Linked DNA regions of Homo sapiens. The protein of the gene in region 1 interacts with the protein of each later gene in a pairwise test. Each region holds a gene or a part of one and is shown in the gene's direction. Other genes may lie near its edges. The genes, in order: PBX4, SPANXN3, NEK6 and MAPK9.

Region 1 (7,022 bases):
TGGCCAGGCTGGTCACAAATTCCTGACCTTAGGTGATCTGCCTACCTCAGCCTCCCAAAGTGCTGGGATTACAGGCGTGAACTACTGTGCCTGGCCTGTTCTTCAATGAATTTTTAACAAATTTGGCCGATATTTATCGGACCTTTACAATATCTGGGTACTGAACTGGGTTCTGGCATAGCTCTCAAGTTCTTCCTGCTCTCAAGTTCATGGTTTGGGGAGAGAAAGTAAATTTGTTCTTCAAACTTTCTTTCCTTTGCTTCTCAGGGAATGTTGACACTTTTTGTAGTTTCAGATGCTCTGTTTGAGAAATTAGAGTCCTTGTCACCATACAACTATTTCTTTGGCTTTTTTTTTTTTATATAAGGCCGCGCTCTGTCACCCAGGCTAGAGTGCAGTAGTGTCATCATGACTCACTGCAGCCTCAACCTTCTGGGCCCAAGCAATCTTCACACCTCAGCTTCTTGAGTAGCTAGGACCACAGGCCTGTGCCACCACGCCTGGCTAATCTTTCTTTTTTTTTTTTTTTTTTTTTTTTTTGGAGACAGGGTCTCACTCTGTCACCCAGACTGGAGTGCAGTGGTGCAGTCTCAGCTCACTGCAACCTCTGCCTCCCAGGCTCAAGCAATTCTCCTGCCTCAGCCTCCTGAGTAGCTGGGATTACAGGCGTGTGCCACTACCGCCTGGCTAATTTTTTTTTGTATTTTTAGTAGAGACAGGGTTTCACCGTATTGGCTAGGCTGGTGTTGAACTCCTGACCTCAAATGATCCACCCACCTCGGCCTCCCAAAGTGCTGGGATTACAGCCCTGAGCCACCACACCTGGACTAATCTTTCTATTTTTTTAGGTCTCCCTATGTTGGCCAGGCTGGTCTCAAACTCCTGAGTTAAGAAATCCTCCCGCCTCAGCCTTCCAAAGGTCGAGGATTTCAAACATGAGCCACTGAGCCTGGCTCCTCCAACTGTTTTCATTGTGGTTTTTTGTTTGTTTGTTTGTTTTTGTTTGTTTGTTTGGCTGTTTTTTGGTTTGGTTTGGGTTTTTTTGAGACGGAGTCTCATACTCTGTTGTCCAGGCTGGAGTGCAGTGGCGCGATCAGGCTGGAGTGCAGTGGCGCGATCTCGGCTAGTGAGCAACCTCCGCCTCCCGGGTTCAAGTGATTCTCCCATCTCAGTTTCCCAAGTAGCTGGGATTACAGGTGTGCACCACCACACCTGGCTAGTTTTTTGTATTTTTAATAGAGATGGGGTTTCACCATGTTGGCCAGGCTGGTCTCAAACTCCCGACCTCAGATGATCTACCCGCCTTGGCCTCTCAAAGTGTTGGGATTACAGGCGTGAGCCACTGCGCCGGGCCATGTTTGTTTGTTTGTTTTTGAGACAGGGTCTTATTCTGTCACCCAGGCTGGAGTGCTGTGGTATGATCTCAACTCACTACAACCTCTGCTTCCCAGGTTCAAGTGATTCTCCAGCCTCAGTCTCCCAAGTAGCTGGGACTACAGCCTCAAACCACCAATGAATGGCTGGCTAATTTTTGTATTTTTTGTGGAGATGGGGTTTCACCATGTTGTCCAGGCTGGTCTTGAACTCCTGAGCTCAAGTGATTCACCCATCTTGGCCTCCCAGAGTGCTGGGATGACAGACGTGAACCAGTGTTTTTATTCTTTTTGGAGCATTGTACCAGGTGCTAGAGAAACCAAGATGGCTAAGATGTTCTCTGCCTTCTTGGAGCCCACTGAGAAGTAGGGTGTGTGGGAGACCAACTTGTAAATAATTGTTATAACAGGAATGTGCTGTGTAGAGGTAATTCCTAGCACAGAAGAGCTGTGCCAGGAGAGGGTGCCTTCCGTGATGTCTGTTAGGCTAGTCGGAGAGCAGTGGCTTTATTATACTTTGTGTTCCCAGAGCCAGGATCAATGCCTAGCACCTTGCATTCAGTAGTTTCATGACACTGAGGAGATTCTAGAGGGATTAGTAGGAGTTGGGAAAGGGGGAAGATGGTTTTGACACACCCAGGAATGTCACCGCAGAGGCAGAGCTTTGGGTGTGTCCTGGAAGCTACTTTTGTACTTTCCAGACCGGGATATTGCTGCTTAAGGGGTGAGCTCTGCTCAGATGTGGCCTTCCTCAGGCCCAGCACAGCCCCAGGGCTGCTGCATTTTCCTTGCAGCAATCTCCTGAGATTCTAGTTTCCCTAGACAGGCTTTAGATTTAGAATGGAATGCAGCCAGTTACTTTTTTTTTTTTTTTTTTTTTTTTTTTTGAGACAGAGTCTCGCTCTGGCGTGTTCTTGGCTCACTGCAACTTCTGCCTCCTGGGTTCAAGAGATTCTCCTGCCTCAGCCTCCCGAGTAGCTAAGATTACAGGCGCCTGCCACCACGCCCGGCTAATTTTGGTATTTTTTTAGTAGAGACGGGGTTTTGCCATGTTGGCCAGGCTGCTCTCAAACTCCTGACCTCAGGTGATCCTCCCACCTCGGCCTCCCAAAGTGCTGGGATTACAGGCATAAACCACCACGCCCTGCCAGCCAGTTACTTCTTTACCATTTTCAAAGATAGCTCTTTTTGTTTTAAGGCTAAGAAATTAGGCTGGGTGCAGTGGCTCACGCCTGTAATCCCAGCACTTTGGGAGGCCGAGGCAGGAGGATCACCTGAGCTCAGGACTTCGAGACCAGCCTGTGCAACGTGGAGAAACCCCACCTCTACTAAAAATACAAAAATTAGCTGGGCATGATGATGCCCACCTGTAGTATGTGTCAGCTACTGAGGAGGCTGAGGCAGGAGAACCGATTGAACCCTGGAGACGGAGGTTGCAGTGAGCCGAGATCGTGCCACTGCACTCCAGCCTGGATGACAGAGAAAAAAAAAAAAGAAATTAAATGGTGTGGTGGGGGGCGTTATTCATGCTTGATAACACAGGTGTTAGGTAGCTGGTTCCTGGTTTCTGGCCTCTTTCTGAATTGGGATGACCCCCGGGGCTTTTATTTCGAGACTTTGAAGCTTCAAATCTCCCTCATTTCTTTGGACCTAGCCTTTAGATGAACTCAAAGCCCTAAAGTTCACTCAAGTCCAGACAAAAATCATCCATCCTCAAATGGGCTATTTCCACCCCTCTGGAGGAAATACAGCTCCTCACAGTAAACCCTGCAGCCTGGTAGATTACCAACCTGGGCTGGGAAGCAGATTGTCTCTTCTGATCAACTGATCCTGTGAGGCTTTTGAAAATCTTTCTGATCCTGCCCACTCTCAATGTGCCAGTCACCCCTTTTATCACCCCAGCAGTCAGTTGAACTCAACTGTTTAGCAAGAAGGAATTTTTCATCTCAGTCGTGAGGCCCTCTGAACATGTTTTGTTGCCGTAAGTTTGTTTTCAGAAGGAAAATATAGCTCTCTCTTCAAACCTGGGTTTTTTGTTTTGTTTTGTTTTTTTCTTGAGACAGAGTCTCACTCTGTTGCCCTCGCTGGGATACAGTGGTGCGATCTCAGTTCACTGCAACCCTCGTCTCATGGGTTCAAGCAATTCTGCCTCAGCCTCCCGAGTAGTTGGGATTACAGGTGTGTACAGGTATGCACCACCATGCCCGGCTTAATTTTTGTATTTTTAGTAGAGACACAGTTTCACCATGTTGGCCAAGCTGGTCTAGAACTCCTGGCTTCAGGTGATCTGCCTGCCTCAGCCTCCCAAAGTGCAGGGATTACAGGCATGAGCCACTGTGCCTGGCCTTAACATTTTTTTGTAGATACAGAGTCTCACTATGTTGCCCAGGCTGGTTTTGAACTCCTGGGCTCAAGCTGTCCTCCTGCCTCAGCCTCCCAAAATGCTGGGACTACAGTCATGAGCCATCCCACCCATTCTAAATGCTCACTGTTATAATGTTTTAGGAGCAAGCAGTGTGGTGTGTGAGATGGCATACCTAAAACCAAAAATGTATTTGGAAGTTGGTTTTAGGCAACCCAGCAATGCCTGCATAGGTTTTCTTAGGAAGAAAACATATCTCTGAACTTTTCTTTCTTTTTTTTTTTTTTTTTTTGAGACAGAATCTCACCCTGTCACCCAGGCTGGAATGCAGTGGCATGATCTCGGCTCACTGCAACCTCTGCCCCCTGGGTTCAAGTGATTCTCCTGCCTCAGCCTCCCAAGTAGCTGGGATTACAGGCACCTGCCATTGCACCAGGCTATTTTTTGTATTTTTAGTAGAGACGGGGTTTCACCATCTTGGCCAGGCTGGTCTTGAACTCCTGACCTCATGATCTGCCCGCCTCGGCCTCCCAAAGTGCTGGGATTACAGGTGTGAGCCACCATGCCCGGCCTTCTCTTTTTAATTTGATTTTTACTATTATGACCTCAACTAGTAGAGATTTGCATAACTTTCTTAGTCCCTCCAATATTTCTGCAGATTGACTTTGCCTAGATATGGATTAAATTCCTATTATGAAGGGGAGATAATGAAGTGATTTTGACTATCCTTTAAACTTACTGAAGAGGCAAGGTGTGAACTGATACCTGAAATGTGTTCCCCTAGGCTTGGTACTTTTGCAATAGTGAATATAAGGTCAGAACACATATACTTATAAAGTATGTATACTTATGTATGTTCTGACCTTATATTCATACATAGTTATAAAGCATGTCAGTGAGCATTCAGCCTTCCGCACACCCATTCAAAGAATGCAAGGGTTCTAGGGGGAATTTATGATGTGGAATTTCCCAGAGCCAGATAGCATTAGCATGAGAGGATCTATCAGTCCAAACCTGGGAAGTAGGATTTCATATTTAAAATTTTCTTTTTCAGTATCCCTAAAGAGATTAATTAGATGCCAGTTGACTTCGTGCCTTGTAGTCTTTCTTCTTAGCTTGCTTGCAGGCTTAGCTTGACTTGGTCTAGTGCCAGAGGAGTCTTGCTGTCTTTGGTGTACTTTTCCTAAGAGTTGAATTGTGTTGGTTTTTGTTGTTTGACACAGAGTCTTGCTCTATCACCCAGGCTGGAGTGCAGTGGCGTAATCTCGGCTCACTGCAACCTCCACCTCCCAAGTTCAAGTGATTCTCATGCCTCAGCCTCCTGATTAGCTAGGATTACATGCATGCGCCAGCCACCACACCCGGCTAATTTTCATATTTTTAGTTGAAACGAGGTTTCACCATGTTGGGCAGGCTGGTCTTGAACTCCTGACCTCAAATGATTATCCCGCCTCGGATTCCCCAAAGTGCTGAGATTACAGGTGTGAGCCACTTTGCCCAGCTTGAATTGTGTTGTTTTTATTTTTTTGTAAGTTTTTTAAATTTTTTATTGTTTTCGAGATGGAGTTTCACTCTTGTTACCCAGGCTGGAGTGCAATGGCACAATCTCTGCTCACCGCAACCTCCACCTCCCGGGTTCAAACAATTCTCCTGCCTCAGCCTTCCGAGTAGCTGGGATTCCAGGCACGTGCCACCACACCCAGCTAATTTTGTATTTTCAGTAGAGACGAGGTTTCTCCATGTTGTTCAGGCTGGTCTCGAACTCCCAACCTCAGGTGATCCGCCCGTCTCAGCCTCCCAAAGTGGTGGGATTACAGACGTGAGCCACCGTGCCTGGCAAATTGTGTTAGTTTTAAAACAATTCCCTGAAGCTATCTAAAAGTCTTTTGGCAAAATCCCCTTTGAAATAGCTTTATTAATGAAAAGTAAAGCCATGTGTAGAATTTCACAAAGGAGCAAGTACCACTCACTCATTTAAATGACAGCTACCGAGTGCCTCTATCAGAACACAGTGGTTGATGATGATGACAATAAGGATTTCCCTCATTTACCCCTCCCCAGAACCCTAGGAAGTGGGTGGTTTTTCACTGTTTGTTTTTCTTTCTTTCTTTAGTTTTTTTGAGACGGAGTCTCGCTGTGTCGCCCAGGCTGGAGTGTGGTGGCGCAATCTCGGCTCACTGCAAGCTCCGCCCCCCGGGTTCACGCCATTCTCCTGCCTCAGCCTCCCGAGTAGCTGGGAATACAGGCACCCGCCACCACGCCCGGCTAATTTTTTTGTATTTTTAGTAGAGACCGGGTTTCACCGTGTGAGCCAGGATGGTCTCGATCTCCTGAGCTCGTGATCTGCCCTCCTCGGCCTGCCAAAGTGCTGGGATTACAGGCGTGAATCACTGCGCCTGGCTCTTTTTTTTTTTTTTTTTTCATATGGATTTTTGCTCTTGTTGCCCAGGCTGGAGTGCAATGGCGCGATTTCGGCTCACCACAACTTCCGCCTCCCGGGTTCAAGCGATTCTCCTGCCTCAGCCTCCCAAGTAGCTGGGATTACAGGCATGCACCACCACGCCTGGCTAATTTTGTATTTTTAGTAGAGACGGGGTTTCTCCATGTTGGTCAGGCTGGTCTCCAACTCCTGACCTCAGGTGATCCACCCGCCTCAGCCTCCCAAAGTGCTGGGATTACAGGTGTGAGCTACTGCGCCTGGCTCTTCACTGTGTTTCTAGATAAGGAATCAAGTGGCCAGATAACTGGAGGGTAGTTGGATGGAGATTTGGGCATGCTCTATTGAACTCTGAGGCTGTACTGCCTGCCACCTGTCTCTGCTTTTCCCAGGGATCCTACAAAACTCACTTAAATCTGACATCGCTTCCTGCTCAGAGGAGCCCAGCTGATTGGGTGCCGTGGGAGATCAGACAGTCAGGCTCGGGCTTTACAGGACACTTTTAAAAGTACATTCTCGCAAATTAAATGTCATCTACTCAATAAACATGTATTTTGTGCCAGGTCTGGTGCTGGGCTTGGGAATGCAGCAGTGAGTTCTGAAAGGAGATTCATTATTTGGAGAGGCAGACATTGGAGAGTGCGGTGACACGGGGACCAGAGAGGGCAATGAGGAGTTAGCCCTTCAGCAAGACTAGAGCTTGTAGAGCATGGGCAATCAGAGTGCATGACTCTGGAGTCTAGGTGAAGTCAGGCGGGGGACAAGGAGCCTTGAGGAGATGGCCAAGATCTGGACTTGAGGCTTTGCCTAGGCAAAGAAAGTGGATGCGGCATTGTAGGCTTGGTGCAAG
Region 2 (7,500 bases), on another chromosome or scaffold:
ACTTCATGTCCTTTGTAGGGACATGGATGAAACTGGAAAGCATCATTCTCAGCAAACTATCACAAGGACAAAAAACGAAACACCGCATGTTCTCACTCATAGGTGGGAATTGAACAATGAGAACACATGGACACAGGAAGGAGAACATCACACACCGGGGGCTGTTGTGGGGTCGGGGGAGACGGGAGGGATAGCATTAGGAGATATACCTAATACTAAATGACGAGTTAATGGGTGCAGCACACCAACATGGCACATGTATACATATGTAACAAACCTGCACGTTGTGCACATGTACCCTAAAACTTAAAGTATAATAATAATAAAATTTTTAAAAAGTGAGGATTATAGAATCATAGCATATTTTTTATTTATTATCTTATTTTATTTATTTATTTTTTGAGACAGGGTCTCACTGCCACCCAGGCTGGAGTGCATTGGCCCCATCTCAGCTCACTGCAACCCCCACCTCCTGGGTTCAAGCAATTCTCGTTCTTCAGTTTCCTGAGTAGCTGGGACTCTAGGGATGTGCCACCATGCTTGTCTAATTTTTGGAATTTTTAGTAGAGATGGGGTTTTGCCATATTGCCCAGGCTGGTCTCGAACTCCTAAGCTCAGGCAATCTGCTCGCCTCAGCTTCCCAAAGTGCTGGGATTACAGCTGTGAGCCACTGTGCCCGGCCTCATAGCATATTTTTAAAAAATGACATTGGTTGTTCCAATTGACTCATGCTACAGCTGAGGGATCTGAAGCCTACAGAAGGTACGCAGTTTACCCAGAGTACCAGAAAGAATATGAGATGTAGGGCAGCTTGAACTTGGTTTGAACACTGTTTCACAATTACTGTGTTATTGAGCTTCTCTGAGCCTCAATTTCCTTATCAGTAAATCAGACCCGCATGATGATATCTACCTCCTGGGACTGCTGTGAGTATTGCATCTCTGCTGAACATCTTCCCTCTGCCTTTCCAGATCCACTCACCACCATTCTTCACCTGTGCTGTCCTGAGAGGCTATTTAGGAAGGATTCTCTCAATGGGCTCCTGGACTCTGGTGTCCACTGGGTTTGGCTAATGAAAAGCCCCAAGGAGAGTTGGAGGTGGGAGGGAGAAAGGAAGGAGAGTGAGGGCTGTGGACCTATTCCCCTGGCTCCATCCCTGTGAGTCACCTTGAGCTGGATGAGTCTCTTGGTGGAGGTCACTGTACTTCTGAAGACAGCAATTTTCTCATGATTATTGATTTTTCCAGATTCTAGTAACCACTTCCTCCCTGCTCTCATTCCTTTGGGTTCGGAGTTATGGCAGCTGCTACTAGCACAATCTCTGACGTTCCCCCTGCATCTACCTGTTTATAGATGGTCCCTTTGCAGACAAATATTTGTCAAATATCCCATTTTGGATGTATCATCTGTTTGACCTAGATACTATGTGCTTAGAGCAGAGCCTGACATATAATAGGTTCTTGGTGTATAGAATCTATGGCTAGTAGTAGTATTAATATTAGTGTAGAGGTAGTGGTGGTTGCAGTGGAGGTAATCGTGCTGGTATTTTTCAAAGCCACTCATTCAGTCACACGTAAAGCCAGTAGTAGGATGTATTTCTCTTTCATACTCAACTCTTTCTCAATGATTGCTTTTCAACTGTCTGTGCTCCAGAGGGAAATATACGGTTGGCTTCTAACACCTTGCTCTTTGTGGCCATGGAATGCTGCACATCCCAAGCAGATCCTATCCTGTGTCTGGTACTTTGTGTGGTGTTTAAACCTACCTTAGATAAAAATTGTAACAAAAATCATTAAGAATGCAGTTGAGGGTTATTATTATAACTAAACTAATGTCAGTCTGTAATATCACTTGTACAAAGGCTCAAAAACAAGAGGTGAAAAGGTTTAAAGGAGTCCCTGGTTCTGACCCTGGGTCCATCTCTGACTTACAGCATGATATGGGAGAGTCACTTTGAGTAGTTCCTCAACCTGATATGAAAAAGAAGAATATTCTTAAAAACTGAACACATCAGAAATTTTAAAAAAAATCAATACAATGAACTCATTGTACACTGATGACCTTTAATTCTTTATTATTCATTTTAGTGGAAAATATAACATAATCACTAAGTTTTTCAATAGGAGTTATTTTATAAAGTAAGTTGTAATCTTTCAATAGAAATATGCCACTGAATGTGTTCCTAACATTTTGATGAATTTTCACTGGATAGTGATATACCCATCAAAATATTTTTTGTAAACAAATTTAGAAAACAATCATAAAAGGTAATAAGGTAATTGAAAGCTGTTATTTTCAGCAATTTTAATCAATTTTTGACCTACCCTATTTGATGCGGCATGGCTGTTGGTTCTTGCTTGTTTTGTTTTGTTTTGTTTTTTATGACATGACAGTTTGATGTTCTCACTGTTAATTGCAGGCAAAAGTCCAAAAGAAATAAATACTTAGATGTTAGTTTGTAAGAATTTACTAAATGGAGTTGTTAATCTGTAGACAACATCTGGAATTCACTAAGGAAAAAAAATGTATACAAGGTTCGCTTGGTTTGTTAGTGTTTAGATGGCAGTCATGGGAGTGCTATAAATTATTTGTTTCTGGAGGGTCAGCAGCGTATTTTGCTAGGCTTTTATTGATTTTATGGTGTATGAAGTAAAGATATGTGAGCTTGACGAACACCGGAACAAAAATCCAGGGTCTACTTCACTTTTGTTCTATTTTTAAATTTTTTTTTTCCGTTATTGCGTTTTGTGACTTCCTATAGAGAATGGACAAGTGTCAACCTATGGGAGGAATCTAGGGCCATGCCTTCTTTATCTTTGGCCCTCTCTCTTATTCTCTTTTAAAACATTTTTAGCTTTTTATTTTGAAACAATTATAAGTTCACAAGAAGTTTCAAAGATATGTACATGGAGGCCTTATGTACCCTTCAACCAGCCTCTCCCAATGGTAAAATCTTCAGTACACTACCACATTACACTATCAAAACTAGAACATTGACAGTGATGCAATCCAGAGCTTTTTAAGATTCAACACTTTTCTTTTGGCTGTTCTAGGCACTTTACATTTCCATATGACTATTATAATTATCTTGTCAATTTCTATTAAAAATCCTTTTTAGAATTTTGATTAGAATTGAGTTGAACTTACAGATGAATTTGGAATAACTGCCACTTTACAATATTGAATCTTCCAACCGAAAATCAAAGTATACATCTGGATTTTTGATGTCATTAACTTATCATTGCAATTTTTTTGTAGTTTTAAGTGTACAAGTCATTTACATTTTTGGTCAGATTTATCCCTAAGACTTTAATATTTTTAGTGATATTTTAAATTGCACTGTTCTTAGTTTCAACTTTCATTTGTTGAAATTAACTTCCAGTCCACCCTAGGACTACCATTAGCTGAAACACTGCCTCTTCTAATATATAAACATACAATTGATTTGTGTATTGATCTCTTACTCTGCAATCTTGCTAACCTCAATTATTGTAGAAGCTTTTTTATAGATTGACTTTTCTACATATACTTTCATGTAGTCTTTGACAAAAGACACTTTTACTTCTCCCCTTCCAAACTGAATGCATTTTTCTTTTTGCACTGGACACAATCTTCAGTACAAAGTATAACTATGCCCATACTGGTGCACATGTGGGTCTTAGATTGTAGCATCCTGCATGTAAACACTGAGAACAACTTCCAGCACTTGAATATCCACTCCTTCCCCCACCCACATACTGGCAGAATTCATGTTGGGAGACTACATTTACTATGAAAATACACCCCTCATTTGAAACAAGACTAGGATACACAGTAAAGAATGTTTATTCACTAAAATTTTGACAGACTGAAGGCCATTATTGCAGATTGGAAATAGGAAATTTAAAAGAACTACACGGACATTGAGTAAAATAACATGGGTTGAAATTTGCCTGGCAGTAGCCTAAAAGTAAATGGTCTTCAAGGTGCATATGAAGGAACTGTAGGAGGGAAATGGGATAATTAATTATTAATTATTAAATGTAACTAGTAATTAATAACTAATAATTAAATGTAGCCACACTAGCTTGGGGGATTTGAGGTGAGACATCTAAAATACTAAGTCATGGTGAGGGCTGGAAGACAAAAGAATGAATCACTTCATAGGAATGGCTGTGGGGAAGGGCTTGAAGGAATCATCCTCTGACTTCCATGTGAACCATGAACATTAAACATGGAGAAATGAGGAGCGGCGGCAGATCGGTTTGGGATGCATCTTCAGGGGATGCTGAAACAACAACCGCATTTGGTTTCCTCTACATCCCTGTCACCCCTCCCCCACAAGCCCAAGGAGTGGTCAGCAGTGGGGCTTTGTGATGTCAAAGCCACCTTAGGACCGCCATTGGCTGGGACACTGCCTGTATGATCAAACAAAGCTCAAGGGTGTGGCTTTGCCTTGTCACCAGGAGGGTATATATAGGGAGGGCAAGAGCTCTGGGACATCCCACTGGGAAGCTTCAACATAGCTGTGGAAGTCTGCAGTCTACAGGAGCCTACTATAGACATTCTACAACCAACCAGAATCATGGAACAGCCAACTTCCAGCACCAATGGGGAGAAGACGAAGAGCCCCTGTGAATCCAATAACAAAAAAAATGATGAGGTAAGATTGTCAGGTTTTGAAGGGAAGGTGAGGGTGAAAGAAAGACACACAGAGAGGGGGTGGCTCAAACAGCAACACAGGAATACTGCAGACACCTGTGGAAGTGGGGGACCCGCTTAATGCCAGAGCCCACCGCTGCTTACAGGCTGGGGTGCTTGTAGGTAGGGGTGGGAGGGGCCTGGGCAGTATGGCTTGCTGCCCGGCAGGATATTGATAAGATGTTTTTATGATCAGGCTGTTTGGTCCTTTTTCCAGTGGGATGTCATTGTGGTGTATCTTGAAACTTTGCCCAGCAAGATATGATAGGAAAGTTTCTTTAGTTGGACCTTTGTCCGTCTTGTGTTACGACGATTAGGCAAGATTTTTCTCATGGCCCGAACCCCCGTGGAATGTTTCACTTTGACCAAGGTCTGAAAAATAGCAGGGTGCTTACTAAATGGTGGTTTGGACTCACATTCTTGCCTTCTACTTTAGTATAAAAGGAAGAGGGGCATTGTTGATTATCTGGCTGCTTCCTGCCGAATAGGGGAGCTGTAATCAGGGTTTGGGTTTTGAAGCAGTGGGTGTTGGACTTCAGAGTTGTTTTCCTGGAGGCACTGGTACTGGACTTGGCAGAGGAGAAGGATGGTATCAATGTGTTGCTGGGTGGCCGCCTGGACAGGGGAGTTTAGCCTTCGGGAGATAAAGCGGGATATGAAGGTAAATATACATGGGCCAATTGTAGTATTAGGAGGAGGAAAATTAAGGGTCCTAAGAAAGGGGCCCCCTGCTATCTCAGTGCTGACTGCAGCAGAGATGTTTACTTCTGCTAACACTAGAATGAGATGTAGAGCCTGCTTAGTGTGTGTGGAGGAAGATGAGACAGAAGCTACTAAAGGAACCTGGATGGTCTGCTTGTTAGGCAAAATGTTAATGTTTAGGCTGAAACACCAGGGTGTATGTTCCTGACCATTTGGCCAGTAGGCAGAGATAAGAGTTTGTGGCACAAAAGAAGAAGACACTGGGGGTGGACAGACAAAAGTTGTAGGTTATGGTGGCAAGCCATGAGAAGGTGGGTGTTGAATTCTGCAGAAATTCTTTGTTTTAACTTTTATATTTTTCCAAGTTGAATAGCTGCCAGCAAGGGTAGCCCCTCTGACGGCCTGATAGGAAATGTTGGTGGTGGAGGAGATGGAGGCTGTTTGGTTTTGGAAAGAGAGGGGGAAATGGGTTTTTGTAACTAATAGCCATTGTAGCCCTGACAGGGCAGAAGGATATAGGTTGCACTTGAGGGAATTGTTTGTGCATGTTTTCCAGCGAGCGCCCTTGAGTTGGATAATATGAAGAGCGGCTCCAGCCAAGAGGGGAGGGGTTTCTAAAAGGTGTTTTATGGAATCCGTTTGTAACATATTCAGTTAAGAGGCTATGAGGCGAGGGAGGGTGACAGCCCTGTATGTGATGGTGTGGGTGGATTTGATGGATTGGGGGAAAAAGAGTTTAGCTGATCAAGATTATAAACAGGTTTGGGAATGAACTGGTCAAGTAGGTGAGATGCAGGCTTATTTTGGACCGAGTTCATGTGGCCAGGTTGACAGGAAGGGCTGTGAATTGCTGGATTTGTGTGGACAAACAAGTTTAACAGTTGGAAGGAAGAGGGGAGTGTGACTGATTTAAGAGGAAAGGTGTGAGGCTGATGAAGGGGGCTCAACTGTCAGAGGTTGGGGGTGGGGACTTAGAGTATCCCACAGACAAAGAGGACAAAAGAAGAAAGAGGAGATTTGAGTAGGAGTGAAATTTTGGAAGGTGCCCTGCAGTCATACCTCCTGGATTAGTATGACGAATTGGCATGGACTATTCAGGGACATGGGGAAGGGTAGCCAGGAAAGATCTGAAATAAAGTAGGAGATAAAAGATTGGAAATTGGAGACAGAGAGTGTTATGGACTAAGGTGTTCTGGATTGGCAACTTCTGGAATTCTTGTTAAGTACAGTGAGGTTGGTCCTGTCGGGGAAGGAGAATAATATGGGGGTGAGGAAATTTCTAGATGTGGGTCTGGTGCTCTTTTTAGTTTGGAATGGTGTATTCAGTGTGGAAAGGATGTTAGCTTTGCCCCAGTCGGAGTAGTTAGGATAACCTGGTGGGAACATTTCCGCTTAGGTTGGAAAGGGGAGGAGGAGGAGTCTGTGATTCAGACCCAGTCCCCTGGTTGTAGGGACAGGGCGGAGTATTTTGAGGATGGACTTTTAGGCTGGGTCAAGTAAGCATTTGTGTACTGTCTTATTAGATGTTGGGTGAGGTGTAACGCCGGCCAAGTATTCCATATAGAATGGGGGGAAAATACAGGGAGATTCTGGAGGATAAAAGGGCATTTGTACATGAGTTTAAATGGGCTTAGGCTGAGGAGCTTTTGGGAAATGACTCATAAATGCATGAGGAACAATGGGAGAAGTGAAGTCCAGGCCATTTTAACCTTTAGGGAAGATTGGTCAGTTGCTGTTTTCTAAAAAAGTTTCCCTGAAGATTCGGGGTGGTAAGGAATATGCAAAGCCAATTTAATGTTTACAGCCTTTACCAGCTGTTGGTTAAACTGTGAAACAAATTGGCCCGTTGTCTGACTGGATGCAAGAGGGGAGTTTAAACCGGTGGATAATATGGGTGAAGAGAATAGAAGCAATGGTCTGTGCCTTTTCGGTGGTGGTGGGAAAAGCTTTTATCCATCCAGAGAATGTATCTACTATTGTCAGAAGGTATAGGAATCACTTTCTGGGGGACATGTGAGTGACGTTGATTTGCTAGTCCTGCCCTGGTAAGTGTCCTCAGACCTTGTGTGTTGGAAAGGAGGTGGTTTGATAGCTTCCTGAGGGGAAGTTTGAGTGCAA
Region 3 (7,244 bases), on another chromosome or scaffold:
CAGGGTTTGCTGCTCCTAAAAATGTGACTTAACTGCTTAAACTCTCCTGGAAGTTCTTGGTGGGACACCCAGACATCAGTATGTGGCGAAGAGCCCAGCAGACAAGACACCCCCATTTTGTATAATGTAAAAAATGAATCCCCCAACGCAGTGGCCTTTGCAGACACCCAAGGTGACCCTAAAGTTGATCATCCAAAGCAAGACACTTGCAGAGGGAAAGGGGTTGCTGTCAATAATCGCACCCGGATGACAAGAGCGAATGAATCCTTCTGGGAAAATTGGAACTCACCCCCTACAAAAAATCCCATTACCGGGAAGATGGCAAGAAGATATTTTGTAACAAAGGAACTTCAAAGGAACATGGCCTGATTCTAAGTTCTTCTTGCCTCTCCTCTCTCCCCCATTACCCCCTCCCCCAATACTAACAACAATAAAGGACTTGAGTTAACCTGGATTCAAATCCTGGCTATTTTCTGAGCCTCAGTTTCTTCATCTATAAAACATAAATCATGACCCCTATCTCAAGGGATGCTATAAGAATTAACTGTCTCTTACAGAGCCAGATGCAGAGAAGGTGCCCGGCAAGCGGTAGTTTCTCTTCCCTTCGTGCAGAGAAATAATGAAACAACACATACTGAATCCTGAAACTCTTTGGGGGTGAACGGAGACAGACTTTCTCCCAGACCAGTTGAACAACGCCTCGGTGGGCAGAAGTGTGAGGCAACGTGTGCAGGGAGACGCTCATCCTAATTCTGGGTGTCATTTTGCAAAGCACTGCTTCACGATGACTCATTTTGGGACTCCCTAAAAACTCCTTTGAGTTAAAAACAAAAGTTGAGTGGGATTCAGCTTGCATTGTACCTTATCACTCTACTGTGCCCTCGTCAGTGTATCAGAGTACTGCAGGGAATTCAAGAATCTCTGAGCAGGCTAACCCTGATATTTGCCCCATAGTGTCACCAGGAGCTGGGACCATCTGCACAGGGCCCAGGACAGAGGGAAAGAAGTGGCCATGAGGGATGGAGGAGGAGGAAGGCCAGGAAAATGGGGTGCATGGGCCTCCCCTACCCTGCTCCCATCCAAGGGGGAGGGGGACCCCCAATGCAAAAGCACTCCTGGGTCCTCCTACCTATCCCTGCTTTATTTCTCCATCAAACTTTTTTTTTTTTTTTTTGAAACAGAGTCTTGCTCTGTTGTCCAGGCTGGAATGCAGTGACATGATCTCAGTTCGCTGCAACCTCAGCCTCCTGGGGTCAAGCAATTCTCCAGCCTCAGCCTCCCGAGCAGCTGGGATTATAGGCACGTGCCACCATGCCCAGCTAATTTTTTTATTTTTAGTAGAGATGGGGTTTCGCCATGTTGGCCAGGCTGGTCTTAAAGTCCTGACCTCAGGTGATCCACCACCTCGGCCTCCCAAAGTGCTGGGATTACAGGGTGAGCCACTGCGCCTGGTCTCCACCAAACTTCTTATCTTTGAAATGCCAGACATTCACAGTGTCTTCCTCCCATCCCACTCTCCCACCTTGGCTGAAGCCCCAAGAGAGTCAGAGCTAGATTTTTGTTCACTCCTGTATCCCAGGACAAGGCTTCTTTATTCCCCTAACACTCAGCCTGCCTGCAGCCAGACCTACCTCTGTTGATTATCATTGGCTGTGTGACCTGGGACAGATTGCTTGACCTCTCTGAGCCTCGGTTTCCTAACTGGAAAATGAGGACATCACAAGTATCTGTCATACGGGTTCTGTGAAGCTGGGGAAGGGCTTTGCAAGCAGTAAAGTCTTACATAGATATTGTGTGTTGGGGGTGGGGGCAGTCCTTTCCTCCCAGTGGCCTGGTGCGGCTCTCAAAGTTTCCTTCAAAAGGGAGTTTCTGGTTCTTGCTCTGTAGCTTAACTGAATAGCTGCCAGAACATGGGACCTGCCCTCCACACAGTGGGCCCCTACTGACTTCTCCCACTCCCTCATTCAGGCCTCTGCTCAGATGTCACCTCATCAGAAAGGCCTTCTTCCAGCACCCCCTATAAAAAAGCACCCCTGGGTCCTCCTACCCTTCCGAGTTATTTCTCCACCAAACTTCTTTTTTTTTTTTTTTTGGAGACAGAGTCTCGCTCTGTCACTGAGGCTGGAGTGTAGTGGCGCGATCTCGGCTCACTGCAAACTTCGCCTCCCGGGTTCACGCCATTCTCCTGCCTCAGCCTCCCAAGTAGCTGGGACTACAGGCGCCTGCCACCATGCCCGGCTATTTTTTTGTATTTTTAGTAGAGACAGGGTTTCACCGTGTTATCCAGGATGGTCTCGATCTCCTGACCTTGTGATCCGCCTGCGTCGGCCTCCCAAAGTGCTGGGATTACAGGCGTGAGCCACCGCGCCCGGCCCAAACTTCTTATCCTTGAAATGGCAGATATTCAGTGTCTTCCTCCCACCCCATCCCTCCCCCTTGACTGAAGCCCCAAGAAAGGGCCATATTTTGTTCACTCCTTTATCCCAGTGCCTAGAAAAGTACCTGGCCCATGGAAGGTGCTCATAGATGTGTCGGGTGAACCAATGACTGAACTAATGTTTGCTGCATGAATATGGCCAGTATCACAAATCCTCTAGTAACACTGCAATACGCTGTCTCAGAACTTCGATTTCTTTCTATTATTTGTTGCAGTGTTTATTTCTTCTATTTAACTTTTCAATCTGTCTGACATTTATTGTGGTGTATATCATGGGAGGCAAGGCTGTAAACAGATCTCCAGCTAAACGGCTAAACAATTTGCAGAACAATCCATTTCCTCCCCATTGGTTTGTGATGTCTGCATTTTCATCCACAAGAGCTGGGACCAGGCCCGCTCCTGTGGGCCAGCTGCTGCCTCGTCTGCCCTCTTGTTCCAGAAGCCCAGGGCTATGCTGTTCCTGAGGCAGGGCTGCCTAGTGATTGGCCACACAGGCACTGGAATTAGACAATCTGCCGTGCACTTTCCAGCTCAACCACTTACCATCTGGGTGACTTTGAACAAAAGAATTTGCTTTTTATTGTTGTTGTCCAGGTTGGAGTGCAGTGGTGCGATCATAGCTCACTGCAGCTGCTAACTCCTATGCTCAAGAGACCCTCCCGCCTCAGCGTCCCGAGTAGCTGGGACTGCAGGCAGGCACTACCACACCCAGCTAATTCTTACATTTTTCTGTAGACATGGGGTTTTGCTATATTGCCCAGGCTGGCCTCAAACTCCCAGCCTCAAGGCATCCTCCCACCTCAGCCTCCCATAGTACTGGGATTACAGGTGTGAGCCACCGCACCCAGCCTGAAATTTCATTTCTAAGCCTCAAAGCCCATCTGTAAAATGGGCACAAGGGTAACGTTGGCACACGTGGTGGACGCTCCGTTGGTGTCATTATTACAGATCACGGCCAGTTGAAGCACTTCCACTCATTTGGCAAACAGAAGCCAGACGGGCATTCACCCTGTGCCCAGTACAGTGCTGCGCCCAAGCAGGCAGTCAGTGTCCCTGGCTCCAGCCCTCCTGGGGTGCAGCACAGTTTTGAATGTGGAGGGGAGGCAGCAGGGGTGGAAACAGCCCAGCCAGGAGCGGCCGCTCTCGGTGCGGGGAGGAGGTGAAGTGAGAACTGAGCTGCTTGGGTCTCAGGGAGGCTCTGACTTCTAGAGGGGGCGTTCAACATTCTTTAGTGGGGACTTTTACTACTTCCAGAAACCTCTGCACATTGGCTCTTGCTGGTCCCCCGGGGGCCACAGGAAGTGGGAGCTCCAGATGAAGAGTCGCTGGCACTTTGAGGGCAGGGGGCAGGGCCTTCCCCTCATCGGAATACTCTTGGAGCCTACTTCAGTGCCTGCATTCAGCTGGTGCACAATAAGTGCTTGTTACTGTGCCAATTTCAGTATGACTAGGGCTGTGGTAGGAGCAATGCTAGGCGATGGGGAATCCGAAGACGCACAGGAGTCCAAGGGTTGGCTGACTGCAGACCCTCATCATAAGTCTAGAGCCGGAGAAGATGGGGAGACGCCGGCCTGCGCCCTGTGAGTCTGGGCCTCAGTCTTCCCATCTCTGAAATGGGGAAGGGGTTCCTCGGCCGAGCGGATCGGCCGCAGAACTCGGCGGAGTCGAGGGGTCCAGGCCCAGGAAGGACGCCGCCGGGGCGCCCCCCGCCCCTCAAGCTTGCGTGGCGGCAGCGCGCACGAGCGCTGGGGGCGGCGCGGCCCCGCGGCGGGGAGGGGCGGGCGCGCGGGCGCGCGGGCCCGCGCAGGCGGTGGCGGCGGCGGCGGAACCGAGCTGACGGGCGTGCGGCCGCTGCGCCGCAAACTCGTGTGGGACGCACCGCTCCAGCCGCCCGCGGGCCAGCGCACCGGTCCCCCAGCGGCAGCCGAGCCCGCCCGCGCGCCGGTGAGTCGCCTGGGGCTGGGGCCGGGCCGGTGGGGCCCCGCGGCCCGGAGAAGGGCGGGGGCCGGGCGGCGGGGCCGTCACCCCCAGCCGGGCCGAGGGCGGGCGCGCGCCCACGGCTCCGCGGGGGAGAGCGGGAGGCGGGCGCGAGTGTGGCCGCGCGGGGCTGAGCGTGTCGGCGGCCGGGCGGGCGGGGGCGGCGTGTCCGCGTGTCCCGGGGTGTGCGCGTCCCCGGCGGGTGTGCGTGTGCACCCCGGAGCGTCTGGTGGCGTTGTTGGGGTGAGTGCGTGCGGGGACGCGGGCATGGCTCCCCGCTACCCACTTCCCGAGTGGGGACGACGGGCGGAGGAGTGTGCCGGGCGCCGCAGGGAGTACGTGCGGGTCTCAGGGAGTGTGTGTGTGCACGTGTGTGCATTCCAAAGTGATTTGTGTGCAAGCACATGCGTGAGCCTAGAAGGGCGAAAGTATGCCTGTGTGGGTGTGAGTATAACGAGTGTGCAGGGCCGTGCGAGCGTGTTTATTACTGAGGTTGAGGGGCCGGCCCCCTTTGCGCCCACCAGGCCTTTGCACAGTGATGGCCCCCGAGCCAGGGAGCCCGTGGAGAGAGAAGCGGCCTGGCATGGGCTGGGGGTCGGGGCTGGGCCTGATCCGGTGAACCAGGGGCCAGGAGGGCAGACTCAGAGCCTGGCTGGGCCTGACAGAGGCAAAGGTCTTAGAGCCAGGCTGCGGCAGGGCCACTGGCAGGACCCTCTCTGCATACACAGGCTGGGCGAGCGGAGGCTGTGGTGGGCCCCTCGGCCGGGCACCCGAGGACGTGTGTTTTCCTAAATATCCTCCAGGCTCTCCTGTCTTTGTTCTTGTCTCTCTCCAGCCAGGCCTGGGGGGCTGACCCTAGACTTGCCTGTGTATGTGGGGGCCTCTCTGCCTGCCCTGCTAAGTAGACGGATCTTTTGATTTATTTATACCTCTCCTAGGCTCCAAGTGTGAATCCCAGGACAGTAACAAATTGATCACAGCGGGCTTGGGACACCAGCTTCCGAGGTCTGTCCTTGCAGTTTTGACTGACAGGCTTTTGTGTGTGTGCGTGCTCTCTAACTGTTGAAAATCTTTGCAGCTGAAAGTCTTAATTGCTTTAAGGCAAACTTTAGAAATTCCAGAGCTCCCTAGTTGGTCTGACTTTTCCAAATTCAGCTTGCCTTTTTTGGGGGAAAATGTCGCCTTAGTTTGGTGTACAGTACGTGCAGGCAGGTCTTGGAGGCACGTTTAAAAACCCTGTCGTTAATGGAAGAAGAATTTCATTGAAAGGGACGCAGAGCCGTCTGGAAGCGCCTGCCCCGGACTCAGCGAGTTTGGACTCAGCGAGTTTGAGCTTACCGAATGAACTTTGGACGTCTTCTTTTAGCAAACAAAACCTGGAAGGAAGCAAAAAAGACCCACATTCTTTTTCTTTTTTCTCCTGAAAATGAAAAAAAGAAAACACCTTCTGGGTTTGCTGGAAATGCCCCCTCTCCTTCCCCCATCAAGGCCAAGCCCTCGCTGCGTCCCCCACCCCCAAATAAAATATGCCTGTGGGGAGCCGTGGAATGAGTCACTCCCTGGCAGAGAGCCTGACGGGCAAACATTTGGGAAGGTTCTTGCCTAACTTCCCAGAAGAAAAGGCCCAGGATTTAAAATGGTCCCTGTGGTTTGTCAGCCTCTGCTGTCCCGTCTGCTTCGGAAATGACTAAAAAGTAGTTTGTATCTCCACAAAATAAAGTCTCAGACTGAAGGCCTTAGACCCAGGTTGGTCTGGATTTAGAGCTGTTTGGGTTTCCAGAAATGGAGCGCCTGGCTTTAACTGGTGGCATTTCTGGTGGGTTTGAACAAGGGCAGAGGAGGGAAATGGGGAGGAAGTTCCCTTTTGCGGAGCAGAAGGGGCTGTGTGCTGGGAGCCGTTCTAGGGGGTGTGAATCTCCCGTTGGTCTTCTGTGACAGAAAATGCTTTTGGTTTTGTGCACAAGGAAACTGAGGCACACGGGGGTCAAGCCTGTGTCCTGGGGCAGCTGAGAGGAGGTGGGGGCAGAATCCGAAGTCACCTGCCCAGCCTCACAGCCTTTCCTCTTTCCATTGCACTTGGGATATGGTATTTGACTGGCTAAGGTGCACAGACCTAGTGCTGAGTACTTTAGCACACATCCGTTCATTTTCTGCTCATCGTAGATAGGGTTTATTATCCCCATTTCACAAATGATAAAACTGAGGTTCAGAGACATGACTTGCATAATTTCATTAAAGTAGCACCACGATAGATGGTCCCCATTTATTTTTATTTATTTATTTATTTATTTTTGAGACAGAGTCTCACTCTGTTGCCCAGGCTGGAGTACAGTGGCGCAATCTCAGCTCCCTGCACCCTCTGCCTCCTGGGTTCAAGTGAGCCTCCTGCCTCAGCCTCCTCCTGAGTAGCTGGGATTATAGGCAGGTGCCACCACGCCCAGATAATTTTTGTATTTTTAGTAGAGATGGGGTTTCACTGTGTTGGCCAGCCAGGCTGGTCTCGAACTCCTGACCTCAGGTGATCCGCCCGCCTTGGCCTCCCAAAGTGCTGGAATTACAGGCATGAGCCACCATGCCCGGCCATGTCCCCATTTACTGAGGATATACTGTGTGCTAGGTCTGGTGCTGTATTTTACCCAGTCCACTCACCAACACTAAGATGGAAGCTGTCACGATGCCCATTTACAGATGAGGAAACTGGGGCACAGAGAGATGAGAGAATGCGCCAAAGACCATGTGCTAATACGCAGCAGAGCTGGATTTGAACCCAGGCTTGTCTGAGCAGAGCCCATGGTCTCCCCACTGTACTAGGAAGGTAGCAGGCACTGTG
Region 4 (7,353 bases), on another chromosome or scaffold:
CTCCACAGAGTCTGTTTCTTTCAAGATGCAGTTTTTTGTCTTACTTTTCTTAGCCATATGACATGGAGCTGTCTGTTCAGATTCAAGGGGGGCTGACTGGAAGGTCTAAGGCATGGTAGGGCTGGTTGATGCAGGATTCACTGCTGGGAAATCTGGTGGGGGTGGGGGTGTCATAATGTTCATACCTCAGGTCTTCCCTTCAGGGCTGGTCAGACTTCTGGAGAACAGCTTGCTGGCTCCCTGCCTGAGGACAGTCCCAGCTGCTGGTGCTCTGGGGGATTCCCGGAGGAGGAGGGCTAAGGGCCACTGGGTTCAGCATTCAGTTATACAGCCCCCAAATAACCCTGTTTCCATACAGTGCCACACCCTCAGCTGCGCCCCAGCTCAGATGCCCTCATTCTAATCATCACCATGGAAGAAACTTCCAGACTTCTGCCTTTCCCAATTCTGCCCTTCCCTGCCATGTCCTCACATGAGCCTGTCTGCCCAGCATGGCTGACTAGTTCCAGAATGGAAGCCCTGTCTGGGGGACCATCAGAGTCCATTGTTGTGGGTTTTCAAACTCCATTTGGGCCTGCAGTGGCCTCCATGGCCCTAGAGTTTCCAGACCAGCTCTGCCCCTACCTCCCCTGGGTATGATGTTACAGGCACCTCCCAGTAAACGTCCCCATTGGTTTAAGTGCAGTTTAGTTTTCTACAACACACAGCTGGGACAGCCCCGACTTACACCCTCTAGCACATCTCTGGGTCCTTGTAGGGGAGAAGGGAAGATGTGGGTTAGTGCAATGGGGGGAGGGCAGGCAAAGTGTTGAGGGGACAGAGGCAGTCAGCATAAGGACCTACACCATCCCTGCTGCATGGGCCGCACCCAGCTCTTCCTGCTTCTGTCCTTCTCCATGCCACTTCCTACAGAACCAAGGCAGACAGAAGTGAATCCCTTGCCCAGAGGAGCACAGCTGACAAGAGTCGGATTGGAATCCAGGCCAGTCAAGGGTGGGGGATATCAGGATCACAGAAACCCGTTGGCACTGTGGCTGCATACACAGCTGGCCTCCGGACAGGTCCCCAATGCCCCAGGCACCCCTAGCTCCTCCACCCCGCTGTGCTCTTGTCTTAGTCTGTTTCTTATTCTGTTGCTTATAACAGAATACCTGAAACTGGGTAATTTACTTTAAAAAAGAATTTATTTGTTACAGCCCTGGGGGCTGAGAAGTCCAAGGTTGAGGGGCTGCACCTGGTGAGGGCCTTCTTGCTGCTGGGGACTCTGCAGAGTCCTGAGGGTGGCGCAGGTGTCACATGGCCAGGGGGCGGAGCATATTCACAGGCCAGCTCAGGTCTTCCTTCCTCTTCTAATGAAGTCACCAGTCCCACTCCGGTGATAACCCTTTAATCCATGAATCCATCGACAGGTTAATCCCAACCACGCTTAGAGGCCCCACCTCTCAGTACTGCCACATTGGAGATTAAGTTTGAACATGAGTTTCATTGAGGATAAACATCCAAAACAGCTCATCCCAAATCTAAATGTTTCTTAAATCAACTAATCAATTAAAAAAAGAAAACCTCTCTGGGCTGAACAAGGCGTATCAGTGAGCTAAAGCCAGCCTACATGCCTGGCAGTGCCAATCTACCTCAAGGTCCTCAGAACTCTCCAGTCCCCTCACCTTTCCCTAAGACCAGGTGACTTGTGGCTCCCTGAACACAGCAAGCAGGTCCTCACATCTGAGCATGTGGGCCTGAGCGCCCTTTCTGCCTAAGTCACAGGCCCAACACATCCTGCTCGGCAGCCTCAGCAACAACTTCCTCCTGCCCAGAAGGCCTTCCTCAATTGCTTCTCCCCACCATAGGCCGGATCAGGTGAGACGTGCTCACGTGTCACACCTGGTTCACGTATGTCGTGGCAGGATCTTTTCACTTGGAGGGTTCAACCAGGATTCTTGGTGCTGTTCCAAGGCCCCCCTCCCCACCCTGTCACCTCAGCTTTGTGTCCATAAATGTTCACTGTATTTCATAAACCAGAAAAAAAGCAGTGTCTCTGCAATAAAAAGAACTCTTACAGAAAACTTAGTGTGAGATATGTATAGCTGTGTACATATGTACACTGATTTTTGGTTACTCACTTGACATGATGTGAGTGCTATGAAGTTAGGCCTGGAGTGCTGGGAACTGGTGTCCCCTCTGTTTTTTTGTTTTTATTTTTTTGAGATGCAGTTTTTGCTCTGTTGCCCAGGCTGGAGTGCAGTGGAGCAATCTCGGCTCACTGCAACCTCTGCCTCGTGGATTCAAGTTATTCTCCTGCCTTGGTTTCCTGAATAGCTGGAATTACAAGCACCCATCACCACGCCCAGCTAATGTTTGTATTTCTAATAGAGATGACGTTTCACCATGTTGGCCAGGCTGGTCTCGAACTCCTGGCCTCAGGTGATCCACTCACCTCGGCGTCCCAAAGTACTGGGATTACAGGTGTGAGCCACCGCACCGCCTTCCTAATGAGAAGCACCCATCAGTGCTCCTTGGTGGAACCTCAGATCTGACAGCTAGGCTTTTACTCTTTTCCCATAATCCTCGATCCTGACAATTTCTGGTTTCCTGTTCTCTCTCATGCACTTGAGGCAGGTGGCAGGTGAGTCTGAGGTAGCGACAGGTGTGGGCCCTCCTCAATGCAGGCCACACTGTGACGTAGAATTTCAAGCAGCGATGAGCCATGCTCAAATTTAGAAAACTCCCTCTGGTGGCCAAGGGGGACACCATGCTGGATCCGTTCCTCTACCCCACCCCTCCTCTGAGGCTCTGGTGCCTCCAAGCGGCCTGGCCCAGACCTCAGTGCCCTTGGAACCTGGGTCACAGGCTAGCTGCCCTCCCCAAATTCTGCAACCACCCTTCACGCCACCCAGCCCCTTACCCTCCCCATCTGCAGAGTCCTGTTCCTTCTCCCCACTCTGGCCCTGGCCACTCTGTGGATCCTGGTATTGTGTTACTGCTGTTCTACACCACACTCACCATTTGTCAACCATTGTTCCCACTCTTCTAGTCCCCAAAGGCCGGCTCTCCACGGTTTTCCCCATGTGCCCAGCCTCAGTGCCTCTCTTCCTGCTTCACTTTTCAACGTAGATCTGGCAACATCCCAAGCCCCGGCCTCTCCCATCCTGTACGACCCCCAGGCCGCTGGTACCTGATCCAGCCTCAAAAGCAGCTCAGAGTCAACGGGTCCCAGTCCCTAGGGGGCTCTGAGCAAGAGACTCCTCGCCCCGCCCCCCACTCCTCTCAGAGGCTTGACTGAGCACCTCCCTTTTTTTTTTTTTTTTTTTTTTTTTTTTTTTTTTTTTTTTTGAGAGAGTCTCACTCTGTCACCCAGGCTGGAGTGCAATGGCGCAATCCCGGCTCACTGCAACCTCCGCCTCCCAGGTTTAAGTGATTCTCCTGCCTCAGCCTCCCGAGTAGCTGGGATTACAGGCGCCCGCCACCACGCCCAGCTCATTGCTTCGTATTTTTAATAGAGACGGGGTTTCACCAGGTTAGCCAGGCTGGTCTCGAACTCCTCACCTCAGGTAGTCCACCCGCCACGACCTCCCAAAGTTCTAGGATTACAGGCGTGAGCCACCGCGCCCTGCCGCACCTCCTAATTTTTAGATGTTGTCAACTAAGTGATCCCGCCACCAAGCGCAGTCTCCTCCTGCGTCACCGACCCACCGGGTCACCTGTCTACACACCGCCATCTCTTCGCACCCCCTCCCCCTCTTCGACCCGGCTTCTGGCCTCACCCACACCCCCATAGACCCGTTCCTCCGGCGCCGCAGCGAGCAACCGAGTGCGAGGCCCGCCCCGCCTACCGGGCCCTAGCACGCCGGGCTCCCGGACGCCAGGCCGGCCTCCCCCCGCGATCGCCCCGGGCTCTCCCCGAAACGGGCGGGCTCCCGTGCCGCTCCAGTCGCCTCACCGCCACAAGCCTGCACCTGCAGCCCGAGGCCCGGCTCCCCGCGGACCCCGCGGTGTGAGCCCCGCGCGCCTCCAGCCCGGTTCCCGGTCCTCCGGGCCACCCTCTCCACCGAGCTGCGCCCCCCTCGCAGGGAGAGCGGGCTCAGCCGGTGGGCCGCGCAATGCCTGCGTCTCCAGCTCACCGCGTGCACTGCGCGCACCCGAGCGCCATGGCCACTCGGCCCGCGCCACTGAAAGGCCCGGGGGCGAAGAACCCGCGGAACCCCGGCCCAGGACCTCGGGCGCCCGACCCGGCCCCCGACCCCGCCCGCGCCACCCTCCATCGGCCCGCCCCCCAGGCGCCATTGGCCGCGCCTGCTCCGCTCTCCGCGCGCTGATTGGTCGGCGCGAGGGTCTGTCAGACCGGGCGCCGCGGCGGCGGCAGCGGCGGAGAAGGGAGCGGGACCGGAAGGGTCGCAGCGCCCCGGCGCCCCTCACACCCACTGCGGCGGCGGCGGCGGCGGCGGCGGCGGGGCGGAGCGGAGCGGGGCGGGCCGGCGGCGGAGCCGGGGCCGCGGAGCCAGGAGTGACTAGCACGCAGCGCCGCCAGTCCGCCCGCCCGCCCTCTCCCCGTGGCGCGGCGGCGGGGAGGCGAGGTGAGCCCGGCGGGCGGGCTAGGCCTGGCGGCGGCTGCTCGGGCCGGGCCCGCGGGGAGGGGCGGTGAGGGAACCGCGCGGCCGGGGGCTTCGGGGCGGGCCGGGGGCTGCGGGGCCCTGGCAGCCGCAGCCGTCGCCCCTGTGCTGGGGGATGCCGCAGGCGCCCCCTTCCGCCCGGCTGTCAGCAGCCCCGGGCTGCGGGCCTGCTCACCGGCCTGGCCCGGCCGACCTGCCCGTGGGGTCTGCGGGCGCCATCCCTCCCGGAGGTGGGGCAGACAGCTGCACTCCTGCGCCGGGTGCCCAGGGGCCCGGGGTCGCGTCCCCGCGACCTTGGCCAAGGCACTGACCCTCGCTCTGCCGCGGTTTTGCCTTCGGGAAGGTGGGGAAATGTCTCTTCTGGACAGGGTTGTTGTCAGGCTGTGTGAATGTATGCAGACGCCTGGGCAGGACCCCGGTGTGCATCTGTGGAAGACTGGGCAGGGTGCTGGCCCGTGCTGGTGTGAGTGGTGTAGGAACCCCCTCCCCACCCGCCCAGCCTCCCGCCTCCCCGCGCACTCCTCTCTTGCCTTGTCATTGCACACTCGGTGTCCAGCAGTGCCAGAGGGGACCCAGCCCGAATCCCTTACCACCGCGCCCCTCCCCCAGAAGACTGCTGCCCCGTCCCACTCATCTCGCCCGCCTTGAACATGCCAGCCCGCATTTGCCCCAGGACCTTTGCATTTGCTGTTTCCCCGTCTTTGGAGTTGTCTCCGTGATCTTGGCACAAGTAGCTCTTTCTGCTCCTTCCTCTGGTCAGATGTCTCGTTTTGGGTGAGGCCCTCCTCGACCACCCTCTTTCTTCCCTTAGTCATGCTATTTCATTATTTAAAAAATTTCCTTCCTAGCTCTCATCTGGTTTGAAACTATTCTATTTATTTGCCTGCTTATTTTCTGTCTCCCCGACTAGGATGTAACTTTGTGAAAACAGGTAGCTGTCTGATTTGTCCACTGCTTTATCCCCAGTGCTTAGAAAGCACACAGGAAGTATTCAGTAGTATCAGCTCAATGAATGAATGAATGATCAAAGAAATGGCCCAGCCTGCCTGTTGTCTCTGCTTTATCTGTTCATTTAGTGACTTCTGATTAGCGTGTGAAACTTGTAAGCAGATGGAAGCTTGTTCTATTTTGTGAAACATTTTGGTGTCCTTGACCCCTTTAATTGCTAACTGTTGGAACAAGCTGTGATATAAAATCTCACATTTTTATAATAGTTTAGCTGTAGCTTTCTTCCACACATACAAGAGACATTTACTGAATTCTGCATTATCTAGGTCATGCTTTCTGCTAGACCCTACGGACACAAGGCAGATAGCAACGGGGTCCCTTTCCCGAGAGAGCCCAGGAGCCCAGTAGAGAAGGCAGGCATGCAGACACTTAGTTCCAGGACTGTACAACCCTTGCTATAGGGGAGGGGCTATGCCATGGAAATGTGGAGGAGGTGACAGGTGGTGCTGGGGGGCCTTGAGGGTGATAAGAAATTTGCTAGGCAGGGAGAGGCACAGAGGTGTGAAGGAGCAGGGCCAAGGAAGGACCGTAGGCCACTGTGGAGTTGAGAATCAGTCTGGAGGGCCAGGTGTAAGGACACAGAGTCGTGGGGACCCTAAAGAACAGGAACCTTACCCAGCAGTTTTCTAGAAGAAGGTGGAATTTGGCTGGGTGCCATGGCTCACGCCAGTAATTTCAAGACACTTTGGGAGGCTGATGTGGGAGGATCACTTCAGGCCAGGAGTTCAAGACCAGCCTGGGCAACGTAGCGAGATCTGTCTCTACAAAAAATTTTAAGAAATTAGCTAGGTGTGGTGGCATCCACCTGTAGTCCTAGCTGCTTGGGAGGCTGAGGTGGAAGGATCCCATGAGCCCAGGATTTGGAGCCTGCAGTGAGCTATGATCACACCACTGTGCTCCAGCCTGGGTGACAGAGCAAGACCCTGTCTCTAAAAAGGAAGGCAGCACTCCACATTTGTTCTGATTTTTAAATGTTGGCAATAGCTAATTAAATTTTTTTTTAATGCTGTGAGCCAAGCCAAATACAGATTCATTCAGCTTGGTTGCAGGATCGTCATCCTCCAGGACTGGCTGTGTGGGAGGGAGGAGCTGTGAGGAGAGCAGGAAAGGTAGCCTAAGGCCAGGGGAGCCAGGCCCTGTTTGCCCAGGTGCCAGCCCAGATACTCATTTGATTGTAACTGGAGCCCTGTGGAAACGGAAGCTCAGGAGTCTAAGTAGTCTGTTTCTTAGCAAGCAGCTGGTGAGTGGAGTTCGAACCCAGATCACTTCCCAGATAAGGATTCTTTCCTGGGTCCCTCAGCTCTGAGTATTCTCTTTTGGCTTTTAACTTGTTCTGGAAGAATGACCACCAATCTATTTAATGTTTTCCTCCATTTAACTTTTTTTTTTCTTCAAAAGGATCCTGCAGAGTTAAAAACAATACTATTTTTGCATAGACTTCTCTTTTGACAGCTTTGATTTTCCTGGCAATTTAATTTTCAGGGTGCCAGGACTTTAATTTGTTCACAGATTAAAATCTGTTTATTTGGTCCCGTAAATAAACAACAGAGGGGATACTTGAATGTGTCTAAGATAAAATATTCTTAATTTTCTGGATAAAGAAAAGGACCAGACAAACCAGTTAATAGCGAGTAAACCAGTTGTTTTCATGAGGCATAAGATAAAACAGAGACCAGATTTTTTTTCTTCTTGAGACTATTGATTTGCCAATAGGGCAACTATTTTTGGTCTACATACA

Evidence for each region.
Region 2: the proteins of PBX4 (region 1) and SPANXN3 interact in binary tests that used the Homo sapiens proteins (3 or more experiments, as listed by UniProt).
Region 3: the proteins of PBX4 (region 1) and NEK6 interact in binary tests that used the Homo sapiens proteins (3 or more experiments, as listed by UniProt).
Region 4: the proteins of PBX4 (region 1) and MAPK9 interact in binary tests that used the Homo sapiens proteins (3 or more experiments, as listed by UniProt).

Annotation. Positions count from the first base shown.
Region 1 is NC_000019.10:19,608,684-19,615,705, reverse strand, and holds part of PBX4 (pre-B-cell leukemia transcription factor 4), read left to right. Parts: intron 1-7,022.
Region 2 is NC_000023.11:143,514,456-143,521,955, reverse strand, and holds the start of SPANXN3 (sperm protein associated with the nucleus on the X chromosome N3), read left to right. Parts: upstream 1-4,480; 5' UTR 4,481-4,564; coding exon 4,565-4,642; intron 4,643-5,061; exon of another isoform or gene 5,062-5,266; coding exon of another isoform or gene 5,267-5,341; intron 5,342-7,500.
Region 3 is NC_000009.12:124,253,705-124,260,948, forward strand, and holds the start of NEK6 (serine/threonine-protein kinase Nek6), read left to right. Parts: upstream 1-4,244; 5' UTR 4,245-4,381; intron 4,382-4,536; exon of another isoform or gene 4,537-4,657; intron 4,658-5,505; exon of another isoform or gene 5,506-5,790; intron 5,791-7,244. UniProt on the Homo sapiens protein: Protein kinase which plays an important role in mitotic cell cycle progression. Required for chromosome segregation at metaphase-anaphase transition, robust mitotic spindle formation and cytokinesis.
Region 4 is NC_000005.10:180,289,066-180,296,418, reverse strand, and holds the start of MAPK9 (mitogen-activated protein kinase 9), read left to right. Parts: upstream 1-4,335; 5' UTR 4,336-4,571; intron 4,572-5,143; exon of another isoform or gene 5,144-5,381; intron 5,382-7,353. UniProt on the Homo sapiens protein: Serine/threonine-protein kinase involved in various processes such as cell proliferation, differentiation, migration, transformation and programmed cell death.